3 linked regions of the Homo sapiens genome follow. The protein of the gene in region 1 interacts with the protein of each later gene in a biochemical or structural test. Each region holds a gene or a part of one and is shown on either strand. Other genes may lie near its edges.

What was found.
Region 2: the proteins of NOD1 (region 1) and RNF34 form a complex in vitro, tested with the Homo sapiens proteins (one study listed by BioGRID).
Region 3: the proteins of NOD1 (region 1) and RIPK2 form a complex in vitro, tested with the Homo sapiens proteins (one study listed by BioGRID).

Annotation. Positions count from the first base shown.
Region 1 is NC_000007.14:30,458,023-30,461,852, forward strand, and holds part of NOD1 (nucleotide-binding oligomerization domain-containing protein 1), read right to left. Parts: intron 2,020-3,830; 5' UTR 1,879-2,019; intron 1,219-1,878; 5' UTR 1,130-1,218; intron 1-1,129. UniProt on the Homo sapiens protein: Pattern recognition receptor (PRR) that detects bacterial peptidoglycan fragments and other danger signals and thus participates in both innate and adaptive immune responses.
Region 2 is NC_000012.12:121,410,118-121,413,717, forward strand, and holds part of RNF34 (E3 ubiquitin-protein ligase RNF34), read left to right. Parts: intron 1-3,600. UniProt on the Homo sapiens protein: E3 ubiquitin-protein ligase that regulates several biological processes through the ubiquitin-mediated proteasomal degradation of various target proteins.
Region 3 is NC_000008.11:89,767,752-89,771,581, reverse strand, and holds part of RIPK2 (receptor-interacting serine/threonine-protein kinase 2), read right to left. Parts: intron 1,811-3,830; coding exon 1,653-1,810; intron 1-1,652.

The sequences.
Region 1 (3,830 bases):
TCCTGGGATTAGATTCCCAAGAGAGGTATCTCTCTGGAAACCCTTGAAAACCTGGTACAAGTGCTGAGTTTCTTGTCTGGGTAGGAACAGGGACCCAGGCTATTTTATTTGGGCATTAAAAAACATTTGGGTTCATCTGAGTTATCCCAAAATTGCACTCACTACCTTCCTTGTAACAATAACAGCAAAAAATAATAATTTTTTAAAAAAATCCCACAGAAGATCCTTCAGCCTCTTCTTGTCCAGGAATACTTGCGTGTGTAAAATGATCTTGGAAGTGGAAAGGCCTGGAATTGGCCACTTTGTCGTTTGTCTAGGCAGGAAAACTCATGCATTTCAGAGAGAGAGTAAAAAAAAGGTTTTTTTGTAGTTCAAAAAAAAGCTCATAGATCTTTTAACACTATCCACATCATTAATATGTTTCACAAGCCACATCTGTTAACATTCAGGTCCAGTGGTTCTCAATTTTTTTTCCACCAAGTGGCACATGAGTCTCCTGCTCTTTGACATGCTTCTATGTTTTCTTTTTTTAACCTATCAAATGCCAGACCCCACACAATAGCTTTCTTTTTAGAATCCAAATGATAGAGCAGGAAAGAGTAAAATTTAAAATTATCAGCAACAGAAGGGCAAGAGATCCTCACCAAAAAAATTTAAAGGTATGAAAATATTAGTTATTGTTCCAATAAAAGTTATTAAATACTAATCCAGCCTTTTCTTTTTTTTTTTTTTTTGACAGAGTCCCACTGTGTGGCTCAGGCTGGAGTGCAGTGGCACAATCTCGGCTCACTGCAACATCTGCCTCCTGAGCTCAAGCAATTCTCCTGCATCAGCCACCCGAGTAGCTAGAACTACAGGCGGGTGCCACCATGCCCAGCTAATTTTTGTATTTTTAGTAGAGACAGGGTTTCACCACGTTGGCCAAGCTGGTCTTGAACTCCTGACCTCAAGTGATCTGCCCACCTCGGCCTCCCAAAGTGCTTGGATTACAGGTGTGAGCCACCACACCCGGCTATTTTCCATGGCAGTCAATTCTATGACCCACTTTAGGATCCTTAGCTTTAGAAAATCGGTTCATTTAAAGCATACCAGCTGACAATATTAAATTTAAATTAGCAGTTAATAATACCTTTTTAAGTTTCTGGCATCATTCTTTGAAGTTAGAATATTTTAAAACAACATTGTTTAAATCTTCAATTTCCAATTTATTTCTGGAATCTGCAAAATCAAAGAAAGACTTAAAAAAATTATTGTGGCACATGGTGAATGAATGAATAAAATTGGCAAGAGAATAATTTTAAAATCTAGTACTCCCAGGTATCAGACTACTCTCTGTACCTTCTTCTTTTAGGACAGTGTTTTCTAAATGTTCAACGTCCCCACCATAGTCACTTTTTTGTTGTTCTTGCCATAATTGAGTCACACCTGTCCTTTATTTGCTTAACCTTTTGCTTTCAATTGAGTTTTGAAAACTCTAATAATTTTAAAGGAATGTAATGTCACCATTAGAAACAGAAAAAAAATATCCTTTGCAATACATAGAAAGTAACACAAAAATTAATTCACCAGAAATACCACAATGTTACTGTATTCCAGCTAGTCCTGCTGCCTGGAAAGGCTCCAGGGTTGGGGCCTGTTTTCTCTCGGAAGCATTTGAGAGATGTTAAAGACACAGTAGCACAGAATTGAGACTTTCTCTTTAAGATCATCACAAGGCTGAGAGAAAACTGGAAAGAAGTCACTTCTCACTTTGTGATTCAGCATTTTGCAATGCCATGCTCCATTCTTTAGAAAGCTGGGAAGGGGTGTTGCACAGCTTCCTTCATCCCTCCTTTCCCGACCTTTGCCCGCCTACCACGAGGGGCCCGTTTTACTCACTGCTTCTGTCTCTTCCAAGCCTGCGATTCCCATAAAAACAGCAACTTGTCTTCCCAGATGTTTTCTGTAATCGCCGCCACAATCTCCACCTCTTGCCATCAAAGGCAGAAACCGAAGGAAAGTCTCCTGACTTACAATCACCTAAATAAAGCAATATATTATATGACAGCCATCTGGCAAGGAGGCTGCTTTATAATGTCCAGAGCCCTGGCTGAAGATTTAATCAGGTGTGCAGAGTTAGCTCAATTCAGCAAGAACTTAACAAGGTATGGATGTTGGAAGGGAAAGCAGAGAAACTGAACTCTGCCTTGGTAAACAGAATCTAAGGGTAGACCAAAACCATACCATGGGAGACTGGAGATCAATTCGAAGTTCATGGGCACTTATTACCAGAAACACCAGACAGCCAGAGATCTGCTGGCCCTGGGGGGCAATCCTTTCCTTTCTTTGCTTGGTAAAGGGTGGGTCCAGTTGATGAAGACGGTCTGGTCCTCTCTTCCAGGCAAAGAGAGGACGGAGATTGGGCTGGGGCCAGGTATCTGGGAGCTGGGTCTGCTCTCCTGGGTGGAGCTTTCCCAGGCCAGTGGTGCAGACCAATGGGGACTGAAGTTGGAGATCCTGGTAAGACAGCTCCAGGGATACCCAAAGGAAAAAACCAAGCTAATGGAGGCAGCCAGAAAACAGGACACACCGCAGAACAAAAGATGGATCACCAAGTGGAAAAATGAAGCAGAGGAGATCGGAGGAGGGTGAGTCCACCACCAAAAGCCATCTCCTGAGGCAAAGGCAGGTGGGGGTAGAGCCTGTGGGCAGTGAGGGAGCCCCGAAGGGAGCTGGGGGTTGCACAGGCATTTCCTCTCAACCGCTCTTCTTTCTAGCTTTCTGCCCTCAGAGAGGGTTAGTTTCCAGGGTAAGGGAATCCCAGGGGCAATTCACCACTCCGGGCTCCTCACAGAAACCAGTGCCCAAGTCCCCTCCTGCAATGTGATCTTCCAAACTAAAGAAAAGGTCTGCAGAGCCTCCAGGAGAAGATTCAGGGAAGCTGCTCTGGTGAAAAGGAAGCAGGGATTGCAGGATGGCGGATCTTCAAAGGGAAAAAGGAGACCATAGAGCAGCTCTGTTGAATTGAAATATGACACAGCTTTCCTAGTAATTTAAAACTTTCTAATAGCCACACTAATAAAAGTAAAAATGGACAGGTGAAATTAATTTCAATGATATATTTTAATTCTAATACACTCAAAATATTTCAGTATGTCATCCATACAAAATTTATTTATTATTATTTTTTGAGATGAAGTCTCACTCACTCTGTCGCCCAGGCTGGAGTGCGGTGGCGCAATCTCGGCTCACTGCAGCCTCCGCCTCCCAGGTTCAAGCAATTCTCCTGCCTCCGCCTCCTAAGTAGCTGGGATTACAGGTGCACACCCCCATGCCTGGCTACTTTTTGTATTTTTAGTAGAGACAGGGTTTCATCATATTGCCCAGGCTGGTCTTGAACTCCTGGCCTCAAGTGATCCTCCCACCTCAGCCTCCCAAAGTGCTGGGATTACAGGTGTGAGCCACTGCACCCAGCCCATCAACAAAAAATTTATTAATGAGATAGTTTACATTCTTTTTCTTCATACTATGGCTTGGAAACCTGGCATGTGTTTTAATCGCACATCTCAGTTTGGATCAACCACATTTCCAGTGCTCAAGAGCCACATGCGGCCAGGGGCTACTCAAGTGGACAGTGCCACTCCAGGGCAATCACTAAAAGCTAGGGTGTTGAGACATCAGAGTTCCTGCCTGCTGCCCTTCCATTTGAAATACTGATGCCAGGAATGATCTTTGTTGTTGTTGTTGTTGTTGTTGAGACGGAGTCTCGCTCTGTCACCCAGGCGGGAGTGCAGTGGCACAATCTTGGCCCACTGCAAGCTCCGCCTCCCGGGTTCACGCCATTCTCCTGC
Region 2 (3,600 bases), on another chromosome or scaffold:
CACTCCAACCTGGGCAACAAGAGCGAAACTCCGTCTCAAAAAAAAAGAAAAGGAATTATGTTCATTTCAGCACTGGGATGCCAGGAAATATGGGGCTTAAAGGGGAGATGGAAATTAAAATTTTCAAATATGCTGCATGGGGCTGGCGTGGTGGCTCATGCCTGTAATCCCAGCTCTTTGGGAGGCTGAGGCAGGCGGATTACGAGGTCAGGAGTTCGAGACCAGCCTGGACAACATGGTGAAACCCCGTCTCTACTAAAAATACAAAAATTAGCCGGGTGTGGTGGTGGGTGCCTGTAATCCCGGCTACTTGGGAGGCTGAAGCAGGAGAATTGCTTGAACCCGGGAGGCAGAGGTTGCAGTGAGCCGAGATTGCGCCACTGCATTCCATCCTGGGCAACAGAGCAAGATTCTGTCTCAAAACCACCAAAAAAAAAAAAATGCTGGATGGGAAAAAAAAAAATACTTCAAATATACTAGTGACAGGGGCTTCCCCTGCTTCAAATTTCTGAACTTTCCAGAAGGCTGGAGTGTTGCAAATGCTCCTCTCAGAGATGATAACTATAAGTGGATTTGCCCTTCAATATGATGCTAAGGTTATTCTCTCACTGGGAGATCATGTTCTCATTGGAAGATTTTGCCCAAATTTAAGTTCAGAGATTCTAATGAGGCTGCAACCTAAATTTTTCAGGATTGCTTCTTTACCTTCTATTCCTGTAGTATTTGGCTGACAGTAGTTAATATGTGTCTGAGTTGTACTGAATATTGGGTTATAGCAACATTTTTGCCTGGGACACTTTGGAGGTTGGCTTGGGCTTTTTTGTTGTTTGTTTTTGAGACAGGGTCTCACTCCGTCACCCAGGCTGGAGTGCGGTGGCGTAAGCATAGCTCACCATAGTCTCAACCTCCCAGGCTCAAGAGATCCTTTTGCCTCAGCCTCCGAGTAGCTGGGAGCACAGGCACATGCCACCACACCTGGCTAATTTTATTTTTTGTAGAGATAGAGTCTCCCTATGTTGCCCAGGCTGGTCTTGACCTGGCCTCAAACAATCCTCCCACCTTGGCCACCTAAAGTGCTGGGATTACAGGTGTGAGCCACCATTCCTGGCCTGTTTTTAATTTTTTATTTTATAATGAGGGCTAAATTAAGTGTTTTTCTTCATTTTCTTTCTGGGGAACAAAGAGGAAATTCCCTTCCTTGTATAGAAACGTGAGGAATGGGACAAAATTGTCCCCCTCCAAAATTGGTATCTACACAGAGAATCCATCTGTTTTCCCAAAATAAGTCCTTCTATTCCCTTTACCAGAGCTGTGTAGTTGAAAAAAAAATTTTCAGCCTAGAATTTTAATGCTCATACTCATTAACATGGTTTGAAAAATTGTATTCTTCCCTAATTCATTGTAAAACTATCCCTGATACAAAGGTCATAATCTCTGACAGTGCTGCTTTTAAAAAGGGGTGTCATTTGAGATTTTTGGTTTTCTTTACCAAGAAAACATATTTTGAACTTTCTAAATAGCATGTAAAATTTTATAATGTTACATTGTCTGTGAAGAGATAATAGGAATTTTTTACACAGTTACTTGTCAGTCATACCATGGTGGAAAGAGGAGCAGGAGAAAAAGAAGTTTTTGTCCATGAGGAACTTTCACTGTAGTCCAGGAGGCAACATCAGACATGAATTAGAAGGGGGATAAAAGCTAAGAGAGCTGTTGGTTTAGTAGCTACATTAGTAGGAAGCTAAACTTGTAAAACTGCACTTCTGTTAACCCTGGAATGAAGAGAAGTTTATCCTGGGAGTACTTTCTGCAGTTGAGGTATTTTTTTCCCCAAAAAATGTAACGTGCAAACTAAATTTTTTAGAACAAAGTTTTTCCAGTTTTAAGAGTGCATACTCTAAAGAACTGTGGATGAATCCTTTACTTAAAAGAACATTAACTTTATTATTATTAATTTTTTTTGAGATGGAGTCTCGCTCTGTCACCCAGGCTGGAGTGCAGTGGCGCAATCTTGGCTCACTGCAAACTCCGCCTCCTGGGTTCAAGCGATTCTCCTGCCTCAGCCTCCCGACTAGCTGGGACTACAGGCACGTGCCACCATGCCCAACTAATCTTTTTTTTTTTTTTTTTTTTTTTTTTTGAGATGGAGTCCCGCTCTGTTGCCCAGGCTGGAGTACAGTGGCGCAATCTCGGCTCACTGCAAGCTCTGCCTCCCGGGTTCACGCCATTCTCCCACCTTAGCCTCCCGAGTAGCTGGGACTACAGGTGCCCGCCACCACGCCAGGCTAATTTTGTTTTTGTTTTTTTAGTAGAGATGGGGTTTCACCGTGTCAGCCAGGATGGTCTTGATCTCCTGACCTCATGATCTGCCTGCCTTGTCCTCCCAAACTGCTAGGATTACAGGGGTGAGCCACCACGCCTGGCCTAATTTTTGTGTTTTTAGTAGAGATGGGGTTTTGCCATGTTGGTCAGTCCAGTCTCGAACTCCTGACTTCATGTGATCCACCCGCCTTGGCCTCCCAAAGTGATGAGATTACAGATGTGAGCCATTGTGCCTGGCTGAACACTAACTTTAAATTAACTCTTAGTGAATCTAGATGTTCATGCTTTTTTTTTTTTTTTTTTGAGATGGAGTCTCGCTGTGTCACCCAGGCTGGAGTGCAGTGGCGTGATCTCGGCTCACTGCAACCTCTGCCTCCTGGGTTCAAGTAATTCTCCTGCCTTAGCCTCCCAAGTAGCTGGGATTACAGGTGCCTGGGCCAGCTATTTTTGTATTTTTAGTAGAGACGGGGTTTCACCATGTTGGCCAGGCTGGTCTCGAACTCTTGACCTCATGATCTGCTCCCCCACCTCTGCCTCCCAAAGTGCTGGGATTACAGGCATGAGCCATTGTGCCCAGGCTATTTTTTTTTTCCTTCCTCTTTTCGAGGCAGAGTCTCACTCTGTCACCCAAGCTGGAGTGCAATGGTGCGATCTAGGCTCACTGCAACCTCCGCCTCCCCGGTTCAAGCGATTCTCCTGCCTCGGCCTTCCAAGTAGCTGGGATTACAGGCATCTGCCAATACGCCCAGCTAATTTTTTGTATTTTTAGTAGAGACGGCGTTTCGCCATGTTGTCCAGGCTGTTCTTGAACTCCTGACCTCAGGAGATCCACCTTCCTTGGCCTCCCAAAGTGCTGGGATTACAGGCATAAGCCACTGAGCCTGGCCAGATTTTCATGCTTTTAAGCACACCATGGCTGTAGAGTTTGAGGTATATAATCATTTAAAGGTATGGACTGTTATAATTTTACCTGTCCTTTTTTTTTTTTTTGAGACGGAGTTTTGCTCTTTTGCCCAAGCTGGAGTGCGGTGGCACAATCTTGGTTCACTGCACCCTCCGCCTCCTGGGTTCAAGCGATTCTCCTGCCTCAGCCTCCCGAGTAGCTGGGATTACAGAAGCCTGCCACCATGCCCAGCTTTTTTTTTTTTTTTTTTTTGAGATGGAGTCTCGCTTTGTTGCCCAGGCTGGAGTGCAGTGGTGCTATCTGGGCTCACTGCAAGCTCCGCCTCCCGGGTTCACGCCATTCTCCTGCCTCAGCCTCCCGAGTAGCTGGGACTA
Region 3 (3,830 bases), on another chromosome or scaffold:
AGTTTGGAAACAAAATCAACTTTAAGTTAAAAAATTAGGAAATTACTGTAATACAAGCTTAACGTTACATGCAAGATTAACTTTTTGTGGATGATTTAATTCTTGGACACCCAGATAAGCTATGCCCTTTAATTAAATGATATTATTTTTCACAAAGAACAAAGAACAAGAAAAAAATTGTCTCATGGAGCTCTATTCTACTGCCTTTTTTCTGCTCTCAGCACTATCTTCTTTGGTAGTAGAAATATCTTGCCTACAGTTTAACTTCAGATGTCAATTACAGGGTTAAGCTGCATAGAGTTTATAATTAGAATAAATGGTTAAATAGGATATAAGAATTTTGCCACACCCCAACATTAACCATGCATTCAAAATGGACACATAGAATTTATTACTACTAACACCTTGTGTTACAGGGAGAGCGAGGAGTACAGAGGGAATTCCTACCCAAATGAAGGAATAATATTTCCTCATTTTTCCCTGACAGAGAATATTGAAATTGAACATAAAGGGAAAATTCACAAAATGAATGACTGGCAGATTTATTGGCCCATTTTTATAGAATCAAACCAGCTTTAAGAATTGTTGGGTAGAACATGATCTCTACCTTAGGAAGCTATAAATACATTTCTCCTCCCCTCAGTACATCATTCAGAATGAATTAAAAATATCAGAAAACAAAATATAAAAGGACAGTTTCTTATATTCATACAATGTGAATGTAAAAGACACTGTATGAATTGTTTTAGTGCAGCCACTAAAATGGATTGGCTGGCTTTGGTTTTAATGAGAAATAACAAAAATTAAAATGCTTTTGAAGAAAAGGAATATGCAATTTAATTAAATATATAGTTTTCTGGTAGAGATATAGCATTCATTCCTAAAATGATTCATTAACAAATTATTTATTAAAGATGGCAAAAAGCCATTTAAAGGACTATAAAATGTGTTCAGAGCAAACTTAGAGAGTCTGCTTTTGCATTCATTAGTATATTAAAAGAGATAAGAGTAACTTATACATGAGGTGAATGTCCCCATCTCCTAAACCTGTGTAAATAATCATCTTCCTTTTATTCTGGTTAAATAACCAGTGTCAATAACAATGTGTTATGCTTATTACTGCATTATGAGATTATAAGTAATATGCATCTGAAATATGAAAATATGATCTTATCAAACCCATTGATTTGTTGTATAAAAAATTCACACATATACAAATATTAGGGATTCTTTAAATAGAAATATCCCCAGTGTGATTAAGAGTTTGTCTATTTATCTAAAAAGATATATAGATATCAAAAGCTAAAAGGTTGAACAGGTTGAGAAACCTAAAGCTAAAATGTTAGGAACCACTGTTTCCCTCTGCATTTCCAAGTCACATATGATAAAAATCCTTAACTATTATATTATAAATTGATAGGATAAGAAGAGATGCTTTAAAATTTCTTAAAGGATGTAAAAGTTTCTTAAAGCAAATCATTAAATTTCCTTAATTTGAAAAATATTAATCACCGTGGGGCCTCAAGTTTATTTTCACCACAATTATGAGAGAAGAATAAAAATCACAGTTTAAAATGTAGCTTCAAAATTCTGGTTGACTAATTTTGTGTCTGAGACAAGGTTAAATCTGAGCAGAAGCAACTTTACTCTACCTATATATATCGTGCTTGATACTGGCCCTTGATTTTTGTCCAGGTTCATAGTTTTCAGGTGGCATATAGATAATTGTCCCTCCTTCTGGTGCAGATTTGCTACTTCGTGACTGTGAGAGGGACATCATGCGCCACTTTGATAAACCAAAATCTGCAATCTGTAAGGGACAAGAGCAAATAATTAAGAAATTTCCTCTTTAAAAAGTCCAAAAGTCAACTATCTTTTTGTATATTCACTGTATTTAGATATCAAACCAGAGAAAATGTAATATATTTTAATATTTTATTTCTGTATATTCCCCCAACTTCTTACAAAATTAAATTCCACACTGCTGAGCCAAATAACTCTAGGAGCAATACATACTGAGTTAAAGTTTAATATAACATTACAAATTTCAAAAGAGAGACTAATTTTTGAAAATTGAGCAGAGGCATTTTTTGTCTGATATTCTCAATGAGTGTGTACCTTGCACACCTTACTTTTCATGACATATAGCTTGATACCATGTGCTTCCTACATCTCACAGAGCTGCCAAGTCTACTCACATCTCATGCAATTGTCACTGGTCATTGTTTACAATTCTGGTTTATACAGTTGTATTAATAATGCCCTAAAGGTAGCATCCTTAAATTAAGAAATACACTAAATCTCAAAATTGTAAAGGTAATTATTATACAATTTTATGCTGATCACTAAAAGAAGTATTTCATGGAAACAGTATAATTGCAAAGAAAACATATTTATGTCCAATACAATGGGTGCCTAAAGAATTATCAGTGACAATATTCTGTGCCTTTGATATGTCCTGTACAGTTTTGCTTCAGTTGTAAATCTTATGCACATATTATACAGTATCTTATAACTAAATATTTAAAAGCTTCCTTATTTTTTACTTTATTTTTTAAAAATGTAAGACAAAATGTAAGAACAGAAATAATATTTAATTGACAAGGGAGTATGGGAAATCCTAAAAGACACTGAAATTACTTAAAATATTTTACTGCATACTTTAGAATTCAGCAGAGTGAAATGAGCTCCATGCAGCACATCATTTGTTTCCATTGTTTACCTCCTATATTTTTTACCAATTTTAACAAAATACATAATTTTTATTAGCATTTAGATGAATTTGAGATAAAAAAAATTATGGCCTCCATTCCCAAAAAGGAGGGGTAGAATAAATGAATTTTTCATTCATTTGCTACAATAAAAGAGTCAATTTAAGAAAAAAAATAAAAATAATCAAGAATTTTAAAATTGAATTCACAGAAAAGGACCAAGATGACTAAGTCATGAGAACAGCTGAGAAAAGCAGTTAAGCAAAGACTTTCAGAAAAATTTTTAAGGACAGAATGAAGAAATATGGGCTGTATAATAGCACTTTTAGGAGTATTCCAGACAAACTGAATGAGTGTTCTCCAAAAGCGCGGATTAACAAAAGGACTGATATTGACCCAGATGAAGGTTCTTATGGCCATGTGATACAGCTCTGATTCAAGCTCTGTACTGGTTCATATTTAATCATGACTTAAAGATACAAAAAATTAGCTAATTAAATTTCAGCATCACACAAAACTTGGAGAGAAACTTAAAACCTTTGGATTATAGAAATAACATTCAAAAAGGTCTTAAGAGACTGAAGCAATTGCTCCAATCTAACAAGATAAAATTTGATCATATCTAGAAAGTATTCTGCAAAGTACATTATTTTGTGTACTTTGTTGCTTAAGAAGAGGTGGCTTAAGCAACGATACGTGGCAAAAAGAACCTCCAAGGGTTTTTTGTTGACACTAAGCCCAATTTGAACTATGTGATATGACTACCCCTGGAAAGCTGATGAATTATTAAGGAACTATTAAGTATTTAGGGCCAAGGAAATGACACTTTCACTAAAGTCTGCATTCATCAAACCGCACCAAAAATAGTATTGTGTTCAGTTCTGACGATCAACATTTAAGTGAGATTTAAACAAAATGATGCATCTACATAGCACCAAGGATTAAAATCCATGTAATAAGAAAACGAGTTGAAGGAACTAAAGGGTATTTATCAGGGAGATGGATAAAATGCACTTGTACGTGAGGGTTTGGGAGACAGCTCATAGCTATCTTCAAATATTGAAAGGGCTGTCTTGCTGAAGTAACTAAATTGGATTTATTCTGTTTATCACAAAAAGT